3 linked regions of the Homo sapiens genome follow. The protein of the gene in region 3 interacts with the protein of the main gene of each other region in a biochemical or structural test. Each region holds a gene or a part of one and is shown on either strand. Other genes may lie near its edges.

The links. Proteins that work in one complex are often made in the same cells at the same time.
Region 1: the proteins of MYCBP (region 3) and CFAP91 form a complex in vitro, tested with the Homo sapiens proteins (one study listed by BioGRID and IntAct).
Region 2: the proteins of MYCBP (region 3) and AKAP1 form a complex in vitro, tested with the Homo sapiens proteins (2 studies listed by BioGRID).

Annotation. Positions count from the first base shown.
Region 1 is NC_000003.12:119,706,003-119,713,036, forward strand, and holds part of CFAP91 (cilia- and flagella-associated protein 91), read left to right. Parts: intron 1-806; coding exon 807-883; intron 884-1,401; coding exon 1,402-1,559; intron 1,560-2,588; coding exon 2,589-2,672; intron 2,673-3,836; coding exon 3,837-3,893; intron 3,894-7,034. UniProt on the Homo sapiens protein: Involved in sperm flagellum axonemal organization and function. May regulate cilium motility through its role in the assembly of the axonemal radial spokes.
Region 2 is NC_000017.11:57,116,227-57,121,859, forward strand, and holds the end of AKAP1 (A-kinase anchor protein 1, mitochondrial precursor), read left to right. Parts: coding exon 1-35; intron 36-633; coding exon 634-701; intron 702-2,154; coding exon 2,155-2,228; intron 2,229-2,755; coding exon 2,756-2,818; intron 2,819-4,023; coding exon 4,024-4,098; 3' UTR 4,099-5,118; downstream 5,119-5,633.
Region 3 is NC_000001.11:38,870,335-38,878,199, reverse strand, and holds the start of MYCBP (C-Myc-binding protein), read left to right. Parts: upstream 1-4,851; 5' UTR 4,852-4,894; coding exon 4,895-4,909; intron 4,910-5,109; coding exon 5,110-5,182; intron 5,183-7,865. Other genes in the region: GJA9 (gap junction alpha-9 protein), read left to right, coding at 2,102-3,649. UniProt on the Homo sapiens protein: May control the transcriptional activity of MYC. Stimulates the activation of E box-dependent transcription by MYC.

The sequences.
Region 1 (7,034 bases), on a different chromosome or scaffold from region 3:
ATTAATTTCTATGGAGAAATATGTGTTACCATGTTATCTAGACTAGCTGGTCAGGGTATTTGCCTCCCCAGAGACAAGTCTACTTGGGAAATCAAGTGTATCCAAAGGCTGCTTGTTAATTTAATGGCAAATCAGTTGATTTTAAAGGGTGGTACAGTATAGTCAATCATGAATATTCTTCATCACTTTAAAGATATACCTGATAAACAGATACTTATAATAGCAGGGCAATATTTTGTTGAACTTTGTAAAAATAACAGTTCCATCATCAGCAAACTTACAAACTTAAGGGGTGAATTCTGAAGATAGCTGATTTTTTTTTTAACCGTGTTCACCAATTCTGAGATATCATGTGGTTTGCATCTTTCTAGTGCACCAAATATGGGAGATGGTATAAATGTATTGCTTCTTTCACTTGCAAATTGGCATAGTGCGTATATACAAGGTCTTTCCCTTGAAGAATTTTTTGGGTTACCCAGGCTCAAAAGGAGTTTTGTTCATAGGAGAGAAGAAAGTGTGTTCAGGGTGTAGTACTTGAAAACATGCTAGACTTTCTTTATGAATTCCACTTCCGTAAGCTGACTTGGAATACTCAGAAAAGAAAAACATCTTGACAACTGTTGCTGGTAGAAGTGGTAGAGTAACAGGGCCACATGCACAACAGAGCATGAGCTGCTGCAGAGTCAGACAATATTTAAACTTTTAAATTTGTTTTCCAATTAAGAGATTACATTACTTTGCCATTATTCTCAGCCTAGGGGTAGATATGTTCTATCTGTTATGCTACTTGATTGTTTATTTTGCAGATCCATTGTTTATTGTGTCAAGTGAGAAAGACCATACACAGGCAAATATCCAAGCTACCCTGATTCGCAGCAGACTGGTATGTCTAATTCATCAGCCAAGGCTACCTGATGAACCTGAACCATCTAGTTTGCCTGACTGCATTGATCAGATTGACTAATCACCAAATCTTCACTGGATTTTAGGTTCCACAGAAATTACCTTGCCAAGATTACTGGAGGGCAAAGCATCTTAATACGTGTGGCTCATTGTGAGGATTAAGTCACCAATAATGAACAGAGAACCCATAAGCTAATTTATTTCAATGGGATAAATTTAATAATATATGCCCATGTTAAAAGAATTCAAGTAGTATAAAAGCATATACAGTGTGAAGTAAATTCTAGCCCTATCCCCTACCCCCTCCACATAAACAGCCATTGTCATCAGTTTCTTGGGCATGTATTTAAAGATATTTTACGCATACAGCAATAACCCCTCTTCTTATGCTGTATACATTGTTTTGTATGTTTTTAAAAAGAGTTTACAATGTAATTAAAATGCTTTAGAAAAGCTGATGGTATAATTTTGTCCTTTGCCTCCCTTCTCTAACATTAGAGAAAAGTTCCCAGGTTTAAAACCATGTTCAGTAACCTGATCCATTATCCAAGATATTCTCTATATTGGAGCAAGTCAGATCCTGTCCCACCATTTATCAGTCGGGAATGGAAGGGACATAAGGAGAAACACAGAGAAGCCCTCCGGCAGCTCACCACGTAAGTGTCGGGTGGCTCCAGGGCCTAAAATAAATGCATTAAAAGCATTTCTTTAAATTCATTTACCATGTGTGGTTTTAAAATGTTCAGTTGTGGTGTTATACCTAGGCCAAATTTTCTTTCTAAACCTCTTTTGACCAAACAAACCTGATTATATATTGTATATATGAGATATATATATATATATAATTTTGTCATATATATAATGACAACTTGCCACCAAAGGTAGGGATGATTGAGTTTGTTGTTGCTTGGATCCAACTTAGCAACTGAAAGTGCTCTGTTCTGCTAGTATCTAAAATATTTTTTGGGAACTTGGGGCCAAAGCACCTTCAAGAATAAGTCGAATTCTTTATTCTTTTAATTACTTACAAGTTCACATTTAGTAAATTAAAAATTATAAAGCCTTTTAACCTGGACATAGAAAAAGTGTCTTTTGGCCAGGCACAGTGGCTCACGCCTGTAATCCCAGCACTTTGGGAGGCCGAGGCAGGCGGATCATGAGGTCAGGAGATTGAGACCATCCTGGCTAACACGGTGAAACCCCGTCTCTACTAAAAATACAAAAAGTTAGCCGGGTGTGGTGGCAGGTGCCTGTAGTCCCAGCTACTTGGGAGGCTGAGGCAGGAGAATGGCATGAACCCAGGAGGTGGAGATTGCACCACTGCACTCCAGCCTGGGTGACAGAGCGAGACTCTGTCTCAAAAAAAAAAAAAAAAAAAATTGTCTTTTAATATTTTGCTATTCTTGTGTGCTTTTAATTAAAATTGGGCATTTTTGTATGTGGGATTTCATAAATCCACTCTTTTCTCAGCTCTTGCTCTGTCTGACTAGGTTCTGGTCTCCTGGCTCAGGGGAAGAATCATATATACTCTAAGTTGTATGGCAGTCAAATGCAGGTTATGGAAGACTTTACTCTCAGTATGAGATACTCTGTGTAGGTCCTACTCTATACACATAGAAATATTAAATAGAAATTATATGTGGAAATATTTTAGACTTGAATAATGTTTTCTTGCTTCATTTTAGAACTGACGCTTCTTTTCAGATGCCTAAAGAAGTTTATGAAGATCCTGAAGTTACTGGAAAGAATCGCTATAAATACTTTGAAAGGTAGAACATAATTACTAATGAATATTTGAGCCCTAATATTATTAGAGAACCTCTTTATGATAATAATAATAGTTATCATTTTTCAGTGCATACAACGTGCCAGACTCTATTTTAAGTGCTTTACATGCATATGATCTAATCGTTAAAACAGGAATGTAGGCTAAGATATATATGATCCCTGTTTTACCAGTAATGAAGCTGAGACCGAGAGATGATAAATAGATTGCTCAAGGTCATATAAGCTAGCAAGGGGTAGATCTGGGGTTCCAACTAAGCCTGCCTGACTTTAGAGATACTGATTGCAACTAAGAATATGTATTTGAAAATATTTGAAATGAAGTCATCAAATGAACGACACACAGTTGGAGATACCATGAAGTCATAGTGAAGGGGAAACTTGTGTTCAAAGGGATAACATTTGTTCTCTTTGTATGAATCTTGCCTAAACCAACAAGGCCAAAAGGTTCATTTTATTTCATTTGTGATTTATGCTTATGTAATAACCATATACTCAAATCAAATTAAAATTAGATGGGGATTTCCTTATATATCCTACTGGAGTTAGAAAAAATAGTCTTGATACCACATCTGTATAAGCTTCCTTGAGAAAGTAAATTTCTAATCCACATTATTATTTATGAGCAACCTCCTTATGGAAATTTTGTGATACTGACTTTTCCAGAGAAATGTTAAATTCTTAACTGTTAACTATACAATTCTGTACAGTTAACTGTACAATTCTTAACTTTTAGGGGGAGGCTTCATATTAAATCACTGTGAATTCCAGAATGTCTCAGGAACTTGAGAAGTTGTTGGGAACTAATGGCCAGCTGAAGCCCAAGTACAGGGCTTAAAGTGTGGCTTCTTCAAGTGTGACTTGTTTCCCATCTGAAGAGAAAATACTGGAGTGTTTATTAAGAATGCACATTCATTGGCTCTACCCTATATGTACTGAATCTCATGGGCCAGACCTGGGAATCTGCATTTTAGACAAGAACCTCCCCACCCTGCAGTGATTTTTTATGTCCAGAAGTTTGAGTAACACTGATATATGGGATATTTAAGCTCACTGATTTTTAAGGGACAAATATTAGAGCTGGAAGAGAGCTTAGAGTGCATTCATTGCAAAAGTCCCACACATTTATGTTTTCTTTTTCCTCCCAGGCCTTTTCTCCCATTTTTTCAGCAGATGCCATTCAATGTTGTTTATGCCGTATCCAAGTAAGTAACCATTATTTGAAAACTCTTTTTCAGTTTATTTATTGTTTGCTTCCATATTTTTTCTTAGAAGATAGTTCACTAAATCACTATTTTTCAAATTGTGGATCACAAAACATTAGAAGGGTATGAAATCTTCTAGTGTGTCATGAGCAGCATTTTAAAACATGAAACAGAATAGAAAATAACCAAAGCATCAAGTATATGGAGGGTAAGTTGGTTTTTGTTTATAACTTTTGTTTCAGAAAAATATATGCATATGTTTATATGTATATGATGGATTATGATATAAAATGTATTTCTTACTGTTAGTTGTCCATTTGTGCTGCTATAACAAATTAACAGATTGGGTGATATAAATAAAATAAATTTATTTCTTGAAGTTCTGAAGGCTGGGCAGTCCAAGAAGCAAGGCAGTCCAATGGGCAGTCAGTGTCGGTGAGGGCCTTCTTGCTGTGTCTTCACATGGCAGAAGAAGCAAATGCTGTGTCCTCACGTGGAGGAAGGTGGAAGGCCAAAAAGGACCTATGCTAGTTCTCTGTAATCCTTTTATAAGGCACTAATCCATTGATGAGGGTGGAGTCCTCGTGACTTAATCACTTCCCCTAAAAGCCTTACCTCTTAATACCACGACAATGGGGACTAAGTTTAAACATGAATTTTGGAGAAGACACAGACACATATTCAAATTGTAGCAGTTGTAGTTTAAAAAAGTTGAAAAGTGCTTTAAATATCTTCTTTTGCTTCTCTGAAACACTTATTTGATGACAGTTCTTCAACATTTCATTAAATAAACAAATCAGTCATGTAATATTTTTTGAATGCTAGAATTTTATAACTTAATAACCATCTAATCTACACAGATAATGTGGTATACAAAGATAAATAAAACATGGTTTCTGCCCCACAACGGAGTGAACCAAGGTAAGAGGGAGGTAAGGGACAAGGGCTGAATCTGAGACAAATGTGTATTTCTTGTCTCTAGTTTCAGGACAAGACAGCAGACTGGTAGAGTATTCCTTTAAAAATCTAATTTTTGCTACACTCTTTCCTCTGTTAATATAATTTAATATTTCTGTAAGAGAAAAAAGTCTAAGGTATTCATGAAATTATCAGGAATAGAAACCTTTTTTAAGGTCTCATATTTCTGAATACAAATTTATTCAGGACTAGGTTTTCAAGGGTGCATTTAAAGAATATAGTTATTCCTAATAATATATATCATCATATGAACAGGACATGTGTTATTAAATGTCTGTAATCCTCAAGATAAATGCTAGTTATGACTCTACTTCACCCTTGACATTTTTTTAAGACTGTGTGGATGGCTTTGGCTCTTTATAGAGATGGAGTACAGATTCCCTGCTCTCCCTAGACAGAGCAACTTCTTGGGGTACCAGTTTATCCAGAAATAGCTGTAGACTTATATTCTATGAAATGTTTTGTATGAGCAAAAGGGGAGCTATGAGCTATGTAGATCCCTAAAGAGCCTTCTGGTAATTCTTTAAAATCAGGCTCACTGAATTACCTGCTTTGGAGGTCATAACTGCCTCAGTCTAAAAGTTGTTAACTAATTCTAGGGAGTTCAGAGGCCTGCAGTGATGAACACCATGACCTCCCCAACTCCTCCCTAAATAACCGTGACACAAGGGATAAAGATTCCATCCAAGAGTTAAACCATGACATTTGACATTGTAGCTACTCTCTATCTGTCTTAGAACTTTTTAAAGAATGAATCAGTATTCCTGAGTGAGGTCAATTCTGGAATTCCAGTATGTTTGAGTTTCTGAGCAGTGAGTATAATGCCACCTTGTGTTATCAGGGATGGAATTGTCTTGGGACCAGCTGGCCTTCTCCAGCCACACCCTTTTCATGGCTAGCTGTTGGAGTCTTTCCTTTGGATTCTACATAAGCACCTTTTCAAAGAGAATAAAAAGTTAATACTTTTAAAACATTCAATGAAGTTCATAGTAGAACAGGATTTGCTAGGTTTGTGAAGCCCCTCTCTGTACAGCTCTGTTGGGGCTGGGAGAGAAAATCTAGAAGACTGTAGGTATGGCAGACAGTGCATGCTCCTGGTGCCTGGGCAGTGGTGGAGGAGGAAAGGGCCTGGATAGAACACATAGAGCAGCCCTGGCTGCCATAAGAGTACTAAAGCCAGAGCAGGTGAGCCTGAGGGCAGGAGCCAGGACACAGCAGGGGTCAGGCCAGCATGGAGCAGATGTGGGACCTTTCTGAGTTTGGGTCCTGTTTGAGGTTGGGGAGGAGGTGGGAAAGGGATCATTGCTCTTTGTTACTCATATTTTACTCTCCCCTAAAGCCAACAGAAATGGGGAAAAAATAGGTTGGAGAAATTAAGAAGTTAGTTAAGAAACCATGTATTAAGTTACTGAAAGAGTTCAAAGTAGCTTTCCTCTTTTACATTCTATTCCCTGACCCACCTGGAAAGATACGAAGCCAGAAACCTTCATCAGAGGAGTTCATTAGGCCTTATTATAAACTAAGCACATTTGATCACATGGTTCAAATGTGTAATTATTTAATTTGAGAAAAAATAATTTATTCTCTTGATTCAAGATAATGGTGCAGTAATATAATAAAACTTCATGTGACTTCGGATGACAAAGCTGATTTGAAGTTATTTATTCAACTAGAATTTTATAGTAGAATAATTTCTACTGAAAACATAAGAAGCCATATATTATCTACATGTTAGAAATTTATAGCAACTATTGGAAAGTGACTTCAATAGCAGTTACAGTTCAGCATTACAAACTAAAGCCCGTGTGCGGTGGCTCAGACCTGTAATCTCAGCACTTTGGAAGGCCGAGGCAGGAGGATAACTTGAGGTCAGGAGTCTGAGACCAGCCTGGCCAACATGATGAGACTCTGACTCTACTAAAAATACAAAAATTAGCTGGGTGAGGTGGTGGGCACCTGTAATCCCAGCTACTTGGGAGGCTGAGTCAGGACAATCACTTGAACCCGGGAGGTGGATGTTGCAGTGAGCTGAGATCACGCCACTGTCCTCAAGCCTGGGTGGCAGAGTGAGACTCCATCTCAAAAAACAAAACAAGACAAAAAAAAAAAACAACTATTTAAAGTACTTGCTCCAGCACAGGTTGAACTTCCAAACAGGTATTT
Region 2 (5,633 bases), on a different chromosome or scaffold from region 3:
AAGAGGGTGAAAGTAGACGTGCTCCGGCAAATCAGGTGAGCGGAGATGCCTCAGGCAGGCCTACGCCCTGCTTGTTCTGGGATGCGTGATCTCTGCGTGGCTGGCTCAGTTGTGCCAGGGCTTGGGTGAGGGTTACTTCTTCCCTCCTGCTGCCTACTGTGTTTTAGCAGAGTCTGATAGAAACAAACTCGATTACTCGCTTAGCCAAACTGAGCTAGAAGGCCTGTATTGTGGAAGAATCCCCAGCATCATCCTTCAAAAGTGAAGCTGGGCCAGGCGTGGTGGCCTGCTGCAAATCCCAGCGCTTTGGGAGGGTCACTTGAGTGCAGGAGTTCAAGACCAGACCGGGCAGTATAGCGAGACCTCATCTCTACAACATCAACAAAAAAGGAAAAAAGTGAAGCAGGCTCCTTTTTAGGAATTTGTCATAGGAAGTCCCTCTGAGGTCAGGCTTGCAGCAGGGTCGGCTGGCTGTGTTTGGGTGTGCTGTGAGCCGTGGCCTCCTGCAAAGTACGAACCCTCTGCTTTGCTGCATCCCAGGTTATGGGCGTCACTGTACAAAGATGAATACTGGCTTGGAGTGGAGTCAGCCTTCATGTCCACATTAAACTTGTTCCTTTCTTGCCTTCCCAGGTCTGACTTTGTCACCCTGCCGTTTCAGGGAGCAGAAGTCCTTCTGGACAGTGTGATGCCCCTGTCAGGTAACAGCTGAGGCCTTTGGCTTGGGGGATTGTTGGGGACAGTTGTTGAGAGTAGGTCTTTCTCAGAGCCTCCGTTCTCACCTGGAGGATTTATGCTAACATAAGTTGCTACCACTCAAGAGTTTCTGACTGAATAGGTCTGGGCTTAGGCCCAGGAACTTACATTGCTATCAAGTTCCCAGGTGAGACCAGTGCTGCTGATCCTTTGAGATCCACTGCTCTAGACTGTACTCAGACCTCAGGCATCAAGGGGCTTCCAACAAAGGCACTTTCCAGATTATAGTCCAGACCCAGAGTCTTAGCCCCGGTGGTTGAGGGCGTGCTGGTCACTGATACTGCTCAGCCAGGCCATAGCTCCATAGGGCACAGTGGGGACACCCTATCTGGTGTCTTAGACTATGAAAGCATTGTCAGAGGGAAGAGGACTGGCAAAATCTTGGGTAAATGACTTAGCCTCAATTTTCACCCCAGAACATGGGAATGGTACCTGTCTTTGATGCTGGCTGTGAGAATTACATAAACCTAAGATCTGGTGTGTAGAGGGTGGCGAAATGGCAGCTGTTTATGGCTAGGAATTTTATATTTGTAGGTGATAGTTCATCCCATCCCACTCCCTCCCCAGGTTTGCCCCTTCTGATCTCCTTCTTGCTTGTCTTAAGCGATTTGCATGCGTTAGAAATACTACAGTCTAGCTGGAGTCGGCTTAGAGGGAGCACTGGGGCAAGATCTTTGTTTTGCTTCTTTTATTGCTGTTGCCCCTCCTTCCTCTCTGCTTCTGTCCATCTAAGCGATCTGTCCAGACCCAGCTGAAACTTTCTCCTTCGTAAGATTTTCCCGGATCTTCCTTGGTAAACCCCTGTCTCTCCCATCCTTGCCACTGCTTGCCTTGGGTATGGTGTTCTATGTAACTTTTGTAATCCAGCAAAGCTGAATGCTGCCGCAGCGCCTTGCCCACTCTGAGTGGCTGGCCTTATTGGGCTGTGTGGCCAACTGCCTGGGTTTGATTCCCACCTTCACCACTTGGGAGCTGGTTGACCTTCAGGAATCCACCTTTGCCTCAGTGTTCTCTCCTGTAAAGTGGGGATAGCACTTGGTGTTACTAATTTTGTGGAAGAACACATATGCTCTGCACTGCCAGCATCCGAGTTGGTGGGGGTGGGGGTGGTGCTGCTGCTGGTGGTATTGGTGGTGGTGTTAGTGGTGAAGTTTCTGTCCATCTGTTGTCTGTGCTGCACCAGTGGGCAACATGCAGTAGCGGCCCTTAGTTTATCCACTGGGAGTCATATGGAGGCCTAGGCTCTGTCTCTGACCTGGGTGGATCTCCCCAGTGCAGTTCTCAAGTTCCACAGCATCTGAAGCATTCTACTTGGAATGCACCTGAAACTTGTGTACATGACAAGGGTGCCTTGCCTCAGTGAGAGCCTAAATGCCGCTTTTCCTTTTCCTCCTGAAGACGATGACCAGTTTTCACCGGAAGCAGATGCCGCCATGAGCGAGATGACGGGGAATACAGCACTGCTTGCTCAGGTGTGTGGTTGGCAGGGGTGGGGGAGGCAGGCTGGCTGGGTTCTTGGGAACTGACCTTTCAATGCCTTCTTTCCTGTGGCTTGGCCCTGGATTGACCAGCAGTATTTAAGGAAAGGTGCATGAAGTAGCTAATACTTGATATTAGTCTGTTCTCACATTGCTGTAAAGAAATACCTGGGACTGAATAATCTATAAAGGAAAGAGGTGTAATTGACTCACAATTCTGCGGGCCTGGGGAGACCTCAGGAAACTTACAATCATGGCAGAAAGGGAAGAGGCACGTCTTACATGATGGGCAGGCAAGAGACAGTATGTGAAGGAGGAACTGTCAGATACTTATAAAACCATCAGATCTCATGAGAACTCACTATGACGAGAACAGCATGGGCACACCGCCTCATGATCCAATCACCTCCCACCAGGTCTCTCCCTCGACACATGGGGATTATGGAGATGACAATTCAAGATGATATTTGAGTGGGGACACAAAACCTAACCATATTATTCTTTCCACCCCCCTTCTTCAGGTGACAAGTTACAGTCCAACTGGTCTTCCTCTGATTCAGCTGTGGAGTGTGGTTGGAGATGAAGTAAGTTCTGCCCTTCTTTTCCTTCTGTGTTGCTGGCCCGAAGTAATGGATTGATTAGGAGCTGGTCCTGGGATTTGTTTCCTCTTGAGTTAATCAGAGGATATAACTGTAGACAAGCACCTCCTAGGGAACACTTTGGATGTCCTGATTGGCAGTGGTGATGTCAGTGTCCTCTAGTGGGTAGAGGCCAAGGATGCCACTAAACATCCCATAGTATTCAGGACAGCCCCCCACAGCAAATAATTATCCAACCGCAAATGTCAATAGCGCCAAGGTGGAGAAACCCTGTGCGAGACTTTCTGGGACCTTCTGTCTGTTGAGTTTTTCTGTCCTCTATCTTATGGTATGAAAGCTTAGATTTCTTCAGCATATTAAAAAGCCTATCCTGGCCAGGTACAGTGGCTCACCCCTGTAATCCCAGCACTTTGGGAGGCCGAGACGGGCAGATCACTTGAGGTCAGGAGTTTGAGACCAGCCTGGCCAACATGGCGAAACCCCCATCTCTACTAAAAATGCAAAAATCTGCTGGGTGTGGTGATGCACACCTGTGATCCCAGCTGCTTGGGAGGCTGAGGCAGGAGAATCACTTGAACCTGGGAGACGGAGGTTGCAGTGAACCAACATTGTGCCACTGCACTCCAGCCTGGGTGACAGAGCAAGACTCTGTCTCAAAAAACAAAAACAAAAACAAAAAAACCCTATCCTTATGCCACAGCAGCCAACAGAATACTTAAATAAATGTTCCTGTTGGCTAGAGCATAAGCCATGTCCCCCACCCTGTTACTCTTTTTTTTTTTTTTTTTTTTGAGACAGTCTTGCTCTTGTTATCCAGGCTGGAGTGCAGTGGCGTGATCTTGGCTCACTGTAACCTCCGCCTCCGGGGTTCAAGCGATTCTGCTTCAGCCTCAGTAACTGGGATTACAGGTGCCTGCCACCACACCTGGCTAATTTTTGTATGTTTAATAGAGACGGGGTTTCACCATGTTGGCCAGGCTGGTCTCGAACTCCTGACCTCAGGTGATCCACCTGCCTCAGCCTCCCAAAATGCTAGGATTACAGGCATGAGCCACTGCGTCTGGCCTACACTGTTACTCTCATACATCTGTTGCCTGCAGTGGCAACCGGGGAGGGGAGAACTCATGTTGGCTAGGGAGATGGCCCCAGGATGCCATGGACAAAAGCTTTAAGGGAACTTTCTTTTCTAGGTGGTGTTGATAAACCGGTCCCTGGTGGAGCGAGGCCTTGCCCAGTGGGTAGACAGCTACTACACAAGCCTTTGACCCCCATGCTGCTTCCTGAGAGTCTTTTTTTGCACTGTTGAAATTGGGCTTGGCACTCAAGTCAAAGATGAACATCGGAATAACAAACATTGTCCTCTCCAGAAAGTCCTTTCTTTCTCCATACTGTAGTCCTATTGAGAAGACATTTCGTCTCTGAGAAAAAAGGATGGAACTATGGGTTCTCTTCGCAAAGCCAAAGGATAGTGTTTAACAAGCCAGCTGGCTTATGCTGGTTCTCAGCTGTTTAAAAAAAAAAAAAAAAAGGAATAGAAACAGTTTCAACCAGATTGTCCTATTCCCCCTGTTCCATTCCCCTCTTCTTCCTTCTATCTCCTTCCCCGGCAAAAACCAAACAAACTGGCAGACAGGCCAGGGATGTATGTTGCTTGCTTGAGAGGGTTTCTTTTACTTCAAAATCTTTCTTCAGGGAGCAAGACATGAACTGACTAATTGGTATCCACTACTTGTACAGCTTACATAAATGAGTTGATGATATTTAACCAGTTTTTATAAACTTCATTTAGGTCTCTAAACACAGACTTTTTAAATTGCAACTGTAAATATGAAATGGTCATCACATCTGACCTTGGTCAGTGGGGAGGGGAACTGGTATCCTGCCAAGCCTGGTTGTAATTTGTAACCATTTTCTATTTGTGCAAACTCTGTAAATATGTGTTTAAACAAATGTAATATTTTGTACAAGATACACTGGAGAACAAAGGGAACTCAAGATTCTTCCAGCCACATGTCACCTGTAGGTAGAAGTAAACTCTGCAGTGCAGCTTCTGCTCTTGGCCCCTCTGGCCAGGGCCCCTGTGGCTTCCTGCACACTGGACAGGTGACTGTATGGTAGAGACTGTGATCTGGGAACTTTTTGCTGTACAAATCTGTTTAAAAAAAAAAAAAAGTAACTCATTGAATTAACTTGCAGTGGTGTGTTTGATTCTTTTTTAGACTGGCTTCAGCATTGTGCAGTTTAAAAATAAGTAAGTAACTTACATAAATCTTCAATTGTATGAACTGCAGCTTTGAGTCCATTTTTTTCCAGTGGTGAAGAATTGGCGGGGGGGGGGTGGTGAGTGTGGCGAGCTGGATCACAGGCCCCACACAACTGCCTCTGCAGGAGACCCATGGTTTTTTGAAGACAATTTGGCCAGAAATTTCTATCTGGCCTTTTCCTCTCTCTCCTTGTCCCACCAGGTGGCAGCCAAGCGTCCTCCGACTTCTTCACTGCATGTTAACTGGCCAGACTCAGTTTAAAGCACTGGCTTCCAAAACGGGTTGTGCCTTCTTTGGTTGTCATTCTTAATAGATTCGTGAAGTTATTTAATTTACTGTAGTGATAAGAATGATGTAAAAAATACATGTAAGTTATGGGATGAGATACTGCCTCAATTTAATAGCCCCTGCTCTTAAAGAAGGCTGGCCACTGCAGCCCAGGCCTACCCCAGTGCCCCGCCCCTGCCCCCTACGTTTGAGGCCTCTGGCTGCAGGGCTGTTGAGCTTGAGCTCTAGTTTTTAGAGAGCTGACGTAG
Region 3 (7,865 bases):
GGCTCAGGCACGAGAATCACTTGAACCTGGGAAGTGGAGGTTGCAGTGGGCTGAGATCCTGCCACTGCACTCTAGTCTGGGCAACAGAGTGAGACTCTGTCTCCCCCCACCAAAAAAAAAGAAAAAAAGTATACTTTTTCATAGTAAAGTATAATAAGTACTTTATACATATTCATAAATATTACTGAGATGAATTTCTGAAAATGTTCACCAATTGCCAGGAAGAAACCAGAATTTATTTCAAATTTATTTCAATTTGGATTAAAAAAACTAATCTAAATTCCTATGACAGCCAGATCTGTTTCCTCTGGTTTCACTGAATGCCATATCTTACTGAATTATCAAATGAAGCATATTCGTTTTCCTATGTGTATAAATGAGATTTAAAAATCACTGACTTTTTGACCGGGCACGGTGGCTCATGCCTGTAATCCTGGCACTTTGGGAGGCTGAGGCGGGTGGATCACGAGGTCAGGAGATCGAGATCATCCTGGCCAACATGGTGAAACCCCGTGTCTACTAAAATACAAAAAATTATCCCGGGGGGTGTTGGCAGGCGCCTGTAATCCCAGCTACTCAGGAGGATGAGGCAGGGGAATCGCTTGAACCCAGGAGGCGGAGGTTGCAATGCGCCGAGATTGCGCCACTGCACTCCAGCCTGGCGACAGAGCAAGACTCTGTCCCAAAAGAAAGAAAGAAAGAAAAAAAAATCACTGACTTTTCAAGCCAGTAATGGCATGTTGGGGAAAAAGAAATTGACTTTGTTATAACTTTTATATCAAATAATCTTAATAAATAAGGTTAAGATCAGGTTACTAGTTTTAGAAACCTTTCCAAAAGTTCTGTTGAAAAACAACAATAGGCTGGGCATGGTGGCTCACGCCTGTAATCCCAGCACTTTGGGAGGCCGAGGTGGGCAGATCACCTGAGGTCAGGAGTTCGAGACCAGCCTGGCCAACATGGAGAAACATCATCTCTACTAAAAATACAAAATTATCCGGGCATGGTGGTGCATGCCTGTAATCACAGCTACTCAGGAGGCTGAGGCAGGAGAATCGCTTGAACCCAGGAGGTGGAGGTTGCGGTGAGCTGAGATCATGCCATTGCACTCCAGCCTGGGCTACAGAGTGAGACTCCGTCTCAAAAAAAAAAAAAAAAAGAATATAATTTTAGGCCATGCGCATTGGCTCATGCCTGTAATCCCAGCACTTTGGGAGGCCGAGGTGGCCAGATCATCTGAGGTCAAGGGTTTGATCTCAGCTCACTGCAACCTCTGCCTTCCAGGTTCAAGCGATTCTCTTGCCTCAGCCTCCCGAGTAGCTGGGACTACAAGCGCCTGCCACCACGCCTGGCTAATTTTTGTATTTTTAGTAGAGGCGGGGTTTTACCATGTTGGCCAGGCTGGTCTGGAACTCCTGACCTCAAATGATCCACCCACCTTGGCCTCCCAAAGTGTTGGGATTACAGGTGTGAGCCACCCCGCCCAGCCTATATTCTTAATAGAGAATATATACACTCCTCCTCCAGGTATCATGTTTTTTTCATTGTATTGTGATGTCTAAATATAAGTGATTTTAAATTCCTGACATTTAAGTATATTATTGGTAACAGATTCACACTTTGGCCAGGTGTGGTGACCCACACCTGTAATTCCCACACTTTGGGAGGTGAAGGCAAGAGGATCACTTGAGTCTAGGAGTTTAAGACTAGCTGCAGCAATAGAGTGAGACCCTGTCTCTACAAAAAAATAAAAAAAATTATCTGGGTGTAGTTGCACACACCTGCAGTCCCAGCTACTCAGGAGGCTGAGAGGGGAGATGATCGCTTGAGTCTGGGAGGTTGAGGCTGCAGGGAGTTGTGGTTGCAACACTGTACTCCAGCCTGGGCAACAGAGGGAGACTCTGTCTCAACAAACAAACAAACAAAGAAAAAACCCCACAGCTATCTAGGGAAAAAGTAAAGCAACCAGCATATAGAAGTGACATATTGTTATATTTTCACCATAGGTTTGCTTTAAGAAATAGTGCTCCCTTCAGAATGGAAGAATTTATCTGCCTCTTATTTGATGTGGATCAGAGCTAAGATGGCTGACTAAATAAACATGGGGGACTGGAATCTCCTTGGAGATACTCTGGAGGAAGTTCACATCCACTCCACCATGATTGGAAAGATCTGGCTCACCATCCTGTTCATATTTCGAATGCTTGTTCTGGGTGTAGCAGCTGAAGATGTCTGGAATGATGAGCAGTCTGGCTTCATCTGCAATACAGAACAACCAGGCTGCAGAAATGTATGCTACGACCAGGCCTTTCCTATCTCCCTCATTAGATACTGGGTTCTGCAGGTGATATTTGTGTCTTCACCATCCCTGGTCTACATGGGCCATGCATTGTACCGACTGAGAGTTCTTGAGGAAGAGAGGCAAAGGATGAAAGCTCAGTTAAGAGTAGAACTGGAGGAGGTAGAGTTTGAAATGCCTAGGGATCGGAGGAGATTGGAGCAAGAGCTTTGTCAGCTGGAGAAAAGGAAACTAAATAAAGCTCCACTCAGAGGAACCTTGCTTTGCACTTATGTGATACACATTTTCACTCGCTCTGTGGTTGAAGTTGGATTCATGATTGGACAGTACCTTTTATATGGATTTCACTTAGAGCCGCTATTTAAGTGCCATGGCCACCCGTGTCCAAATATAATCGACTGTTTTGTCTCAAGACCAACAGAAAAGACAATATTCCTATTATTTATGCAATCTATAGCCACTATTTCACTTTTCTTAAACATTCTTGAAATTTTCCACCTAGGTTTTAAAAAGATTAAAAGAGGGCTTTGGGGAAAATACAAGTTGAAGAAGGAACATAATGAATTCCATGCAAACAAGGCAAAACAAAATGTAGCCAAATACCAGAGCACATCTGCAAATTCACTGAAGCGACTCCCTTCTGCCCCTGATTATAATCTGTTAGTGGAAAAGCAAACACACACTGCAGTGTACCCTAGTTTAAATTCATCTTCTGTATTCCAGCCAAATCCTGACAATCATAGTGTAAATGATGAGAAATGCATTTTGGATGAACAGGAAACTGTACTTTCTAATGAGATTTCCACACTTAGTACTAGTTGTAGTCATTTTCAACACATCAGTTCAAACAATAACAAAGACACTCATAAAATATTTGGAAAAGAACTTAATGGTAACCAGTTAATGGAAAAAAGAGAAACTGAAGGCAAAGACAGCAAAAGGAACTACTACTCTAGAGGTCACCGTTCTATTCCAGGTGTTGCTATAGATGGAGAGAACAACATGAGGCAGTCACCCCAAACAGTTTTCTCCTTGCCAGCTAACTGCGATTGGAAACCGCGGTGGCTTAGAGCTACATGGGGTTCCTCTACAGAACATGAAAACCGGGGGTCACCTCCTAAAGGTAACCTCAAGGGCCAGTTCAGAAAGGGCACAGTCAGAACCCTTCCTCCTTCACAAGGAGATTCTCAATCACTTGACATTCCAAACACTGCTGATTCTTTGGGAGGGCTGTCCTTTGAGCCAGGGTTGGTCAGAACCTGTAATAATCCTGTTTGTCCTCCAAATCACGTAGTGTCCCTAACGAACAATCTCATTGGTAGGCGGGTTCCCACAGATCTTCAGATCTAAACAGCGGTTGGCTTTTAGACATTATATATATTATCAGAGAAGTAGCCTAGTGGTCGTGGGGCACAGAAAAAATAGATAGGGGCAGCTCTAAAGACCAGCTGTTAAGACAGACAACTGCAAACTCATTTAAGCAAGAGAAAAACAGCTCTAATTCGAGATTGTGAAGCAACACTTCTAAATTCAAAGACATAGAGTTGTCAAATCAGGATTTTTTTTTTTTTAAATGATATCCTTTCGAATGTAACTGATTTTGGGAAAATCACATGTTCAGAATTGAGGCTAAATGGTTTGATCAGGTTTTCTCTTTGAAGAGACCACAGCCTTAGGAAATGGTTCTTGATCTATACAATTCCACCTTGGACACTGGGTTAATTCTGTTTGCCCCTGGAACACAATCACGTAAGTTTCCTTCTAGACTGGCATCCTGATGTGTCTTGAGTATAATCACATGTTGCTACCTAGTAAATAAAATCTTAAGAAGATCCGTGGCTTTCCTTCACCAGTTCATAGCATCGTGATTCATTGCCCGGATTGGACTCGACTCTACTCACTGGACATCTAACCACTCCACTTAATTAACAATACCCACCCTACAGGGGTGTTGTAAGGATTAAAATTTAAAATACCCGTGTTTTCTACAGTGCCTGGCTCAAAAGCTACTGCAAGCTCGTTACTGCTCATCCTCCAGAGGCCCACATCAAGTCAGCCACGACTCAAGGAGACTCCAAAGATAAAAGCTGAAGCCAAAATATATGATTCTAAACACCCTCCTCGGCTACTGCAAAGCACTGTGAGCACTTTCTCAGGACGAGAGCCAAGAAGCCCAGCACCTATGGGTCACCACAGTTTCCGAGGTCCCAGATGAAAAAGATGCGCTCGCTACCACCGTGCGGCGGTCCTTTCTCTCGCAATAGTCTCAATGCTCCCGGGCCCTGCCTCCGGACGCCAGGACAGAGGTACCAAAATCTCACCTCCTGCAAAGAAACCTAATTGCTACGGGGGCCGGAAGAGGAAGAGGTGCGGCTCCGACAGCCAGAGGGGCGGGCATACGCAGCCTCCCTCGGCTCAGCCTGCTACTGGGGATGCAGAGCGTCCTGGTCGCCATGAAAACAGGCCACACCTCGGCGATCCCGGCCGGTGGTTTGCAAGTGCGCAGGCGCGCGCCCCCTTCCGCGCATGAGCAGTGCTGCTCCCAACCCGCCAGTCGCGGTCTCCGGCGCCAGCTACGCCGCTGCCGCTGTCACTATGGCCCATTACAAAGTGAGGGGGGCGCGGCGTGGCTGGGGGCATGCGGGCGGTAGCAAGCCGCTGGTCGGCTCTGGGTGGGAGTGGGGTCGCGCGCGCAGGTTTGGGCGGGAGGGCCCCGAGGTAGTGAGGCGGAGGCGGGGTTGCCGGACTCCCAGCGCCTTCTTCCTGCTCGGCTCCCGGGCTCTGGCCACTGACCCCCGGTGTCTCTTCAGGCCGCCGACTCGAAGCGTGAGCAGTTCCGGAGGTACTTGGAGAAGTCGGGGGTGCTGGACACGCTGACCAAGGGTGAGCCTGGGCTAGGAGAGGGTACCTCGTGCCCTCGTCGTGCTCCCCGGCGCTGCCCCGTTCCCCAGCGGGCCGTAGCGTGGGGAAGGAGGGGAAACAGATGGGGCCCGTCCGGGGTCCAGCGAGGTGGGCCTCGGGGTTCAGCAGGGACCTGGCTGCTGGACGCCGCCCGGGTGGGGTAGCCTAGCTCCGCTACCCTTCTCCGCACCGGGAGTGAAACTCTTGCAGCTGTTGCAAAGTCTCTTCAACTTCCGTTGCTTTGCCTCCAGCAGCCGCAGTGGACATGTTTGCCAAGGACCTTCAGATCCCAATTCCTCCCACCTTACGGTTTTTATGGAGTCCTCAGAATCTTGTTAAGAAAGTTTCCCTCCAACAAAGAGCAACTGGAAAAATGACCGAATTTCCAAGTGGGCTATGAAGTAGCTGAGTGAGCCTAATCCCCAAAGTAGGAGATTCATAGCGAATTTGGCTGTGGCTTTTCAGCCCCCATTCCTTAGTCTGTCTGTGTCAATTCTTATTTTGTGTATATTTCATAAAGTAGAATTACAGCTTAAAGAGCTCGAGGGCATATCAAGGTGGTTACATTGTTTTCACTTTTTAAAATGAAAGCTTACTGTTAACGCTGTATCTCTTCATTCGTGGCTTCAAGATCTAAGTTAAGTAGATGAGTAAAGTGTTGGAAACAGGAGGATTTCAAGGGGTAGGGTACAGTTTACTTTATTGGCTTAGCACTAATTTGAATGCCTGCTATGTGTCACTCAACTCACTGGGATATTCAAGGGTGTAGAATGGAATTGTTCGCAGGGATGAGGACTTGGGTCATATGAAACTAGGAAGTTTGGGAAGTGGGAAATAAATTGGTAACTGCCCTTTGGACAGAAGCAAAGTTTAGAGGAAAATTCTAGGAGCATAACTCCTGGGTCTTAGAAGAAAGAAGGCTAGTAATTTTGAATTGCTACCTATTTGGGGTTCAGATAATAGTTTACCTCTTTGCAAATAAACTTCAGCAAGTCTTAAGGGACTACTCTGTGAAAGTACTGTGCTATGTTGTCTCTGAAAGTGTCACAGATGCTTTGAATGTCATTCCGTCTAAAAACTCCTTACGTTCATTTCTTTCATTTAATAATTTTACTCAGGTGTCTGTTCTGCACACTGGAGATAAGCAGGGGAGGATAAAAGTCTCGGCTCTCATAAGCTTATATCCTAGTTGAGGGAGAGAAATACATAAATAAATATGTAGTGTCAGCTAGTGGTAAGTGGTACAGATAAAAATACAGCAAAGTTAGGGATAAAGAGTAACAGGTGAGGCCAGGCACGTGGCTCATGCCTGTAATCTCAGCACTTTGGGAGGCTGAGGTGGGTGGACTGCTAGAGGCCAGGAGCTCAAGACCAGCCTGGGCAACATGGCAAAACTCCCATCTCTTAAAAAAAAAAAAAAATTGCTGGGCATGGTGTGTGCCTGTAATCTAGCTACTGTGGAGGCTGAGGTGAGAGAATCACCTGAGCCCAGGAGGTCAAGGCTGCAGTGAGTTGTGATTGTGCCACTGGGCAACAGTGACACTCTGTCTCCAAAAAAAAAAAAAAAAAAAAGTGACAGGTGGGATGTGTGTGTCATTTTATATAGGGTGATGGGGGGAAGGCCTTTCTTAAGAAGTAATTTTTGACCAGAAACCTGAAAGAAACAGAGTTTCAGGAAGTCTAAGGAGGCCAGAGTGGTTGGATGGAGCAAGTGAAAGACTGAATGGTAAAAGGCAGAAAAATGACAGTTGTAGGCGGTAACTGACTACACAGAAGATGTTGCCCAGGCTGGAGTGCAGCGGCATGATCTCGGCTCACTGCAACCTCCACCTCCGGGTTCAAGCGATTGTGTTGCCTCAGCCTTCCAAGTAGCTGGGATTACAGGCATGTGCCACCATGCTTAGCTAATTTTTTGTATTTTTAGTAGAGAGGCGGTTTCACCACATGGGCCAGGCTGGTCTTGAACTCCTTACCTCAGGTGATCCGCTCACCTCAGCCCCGCAGAGTGCTGGGATTACAGGTGTGAGCCACCGCCCTCCACTAGAATTTAACCTCTCAATCTCCTTAGATTTCCAGGCTCCTAAATAACATCAGCCAACACAGTATTGATGTGATTTATTAAAAATTTGATTTTCAGCTCCAAACATAGGTGCTTTACACAATTCTATTTGTTTTTTTTTTTTTTTTTTTTTTTTTTTTTGAGACGGAGTCTCGCTCTGTCGCCCAGGCCGGACTGCGGACTGCAGTGGCGCAATCTCGGCTCACTGCAAGCTCCGCTTCCCGGGTTCACGCCATTCTCCTGCCTCAGCCTCCCGAGTAGCTGGGACTACAGGCGCCCGCCACCGCGCCCGGCTAATTTTTTGTATTTTTAGTAGAGACGGGGTTTCACCTTGTTAGCCAGGATGGTCTCGATCTCCTGACCTCATGATCCACCCGCCTCGGCCTCCCAAAGTGCTGGGATTACAGGCGTGAGCCACCGCGCCCGGCCTCTATTTGTTTTTACTTTTTATTTTTTTTGAGACAGAGTCTCACTCTGTCACCCAGGAATGCCTGGCCTCAAGTGATCCTTCTGCCTTAGCTTCCCCAAGTGTTGACGTTACAGGCGTGACCCACTGTGCCCAGCCTCACAAATTTAATTTACATATATATATTTTTTCGAGACAAG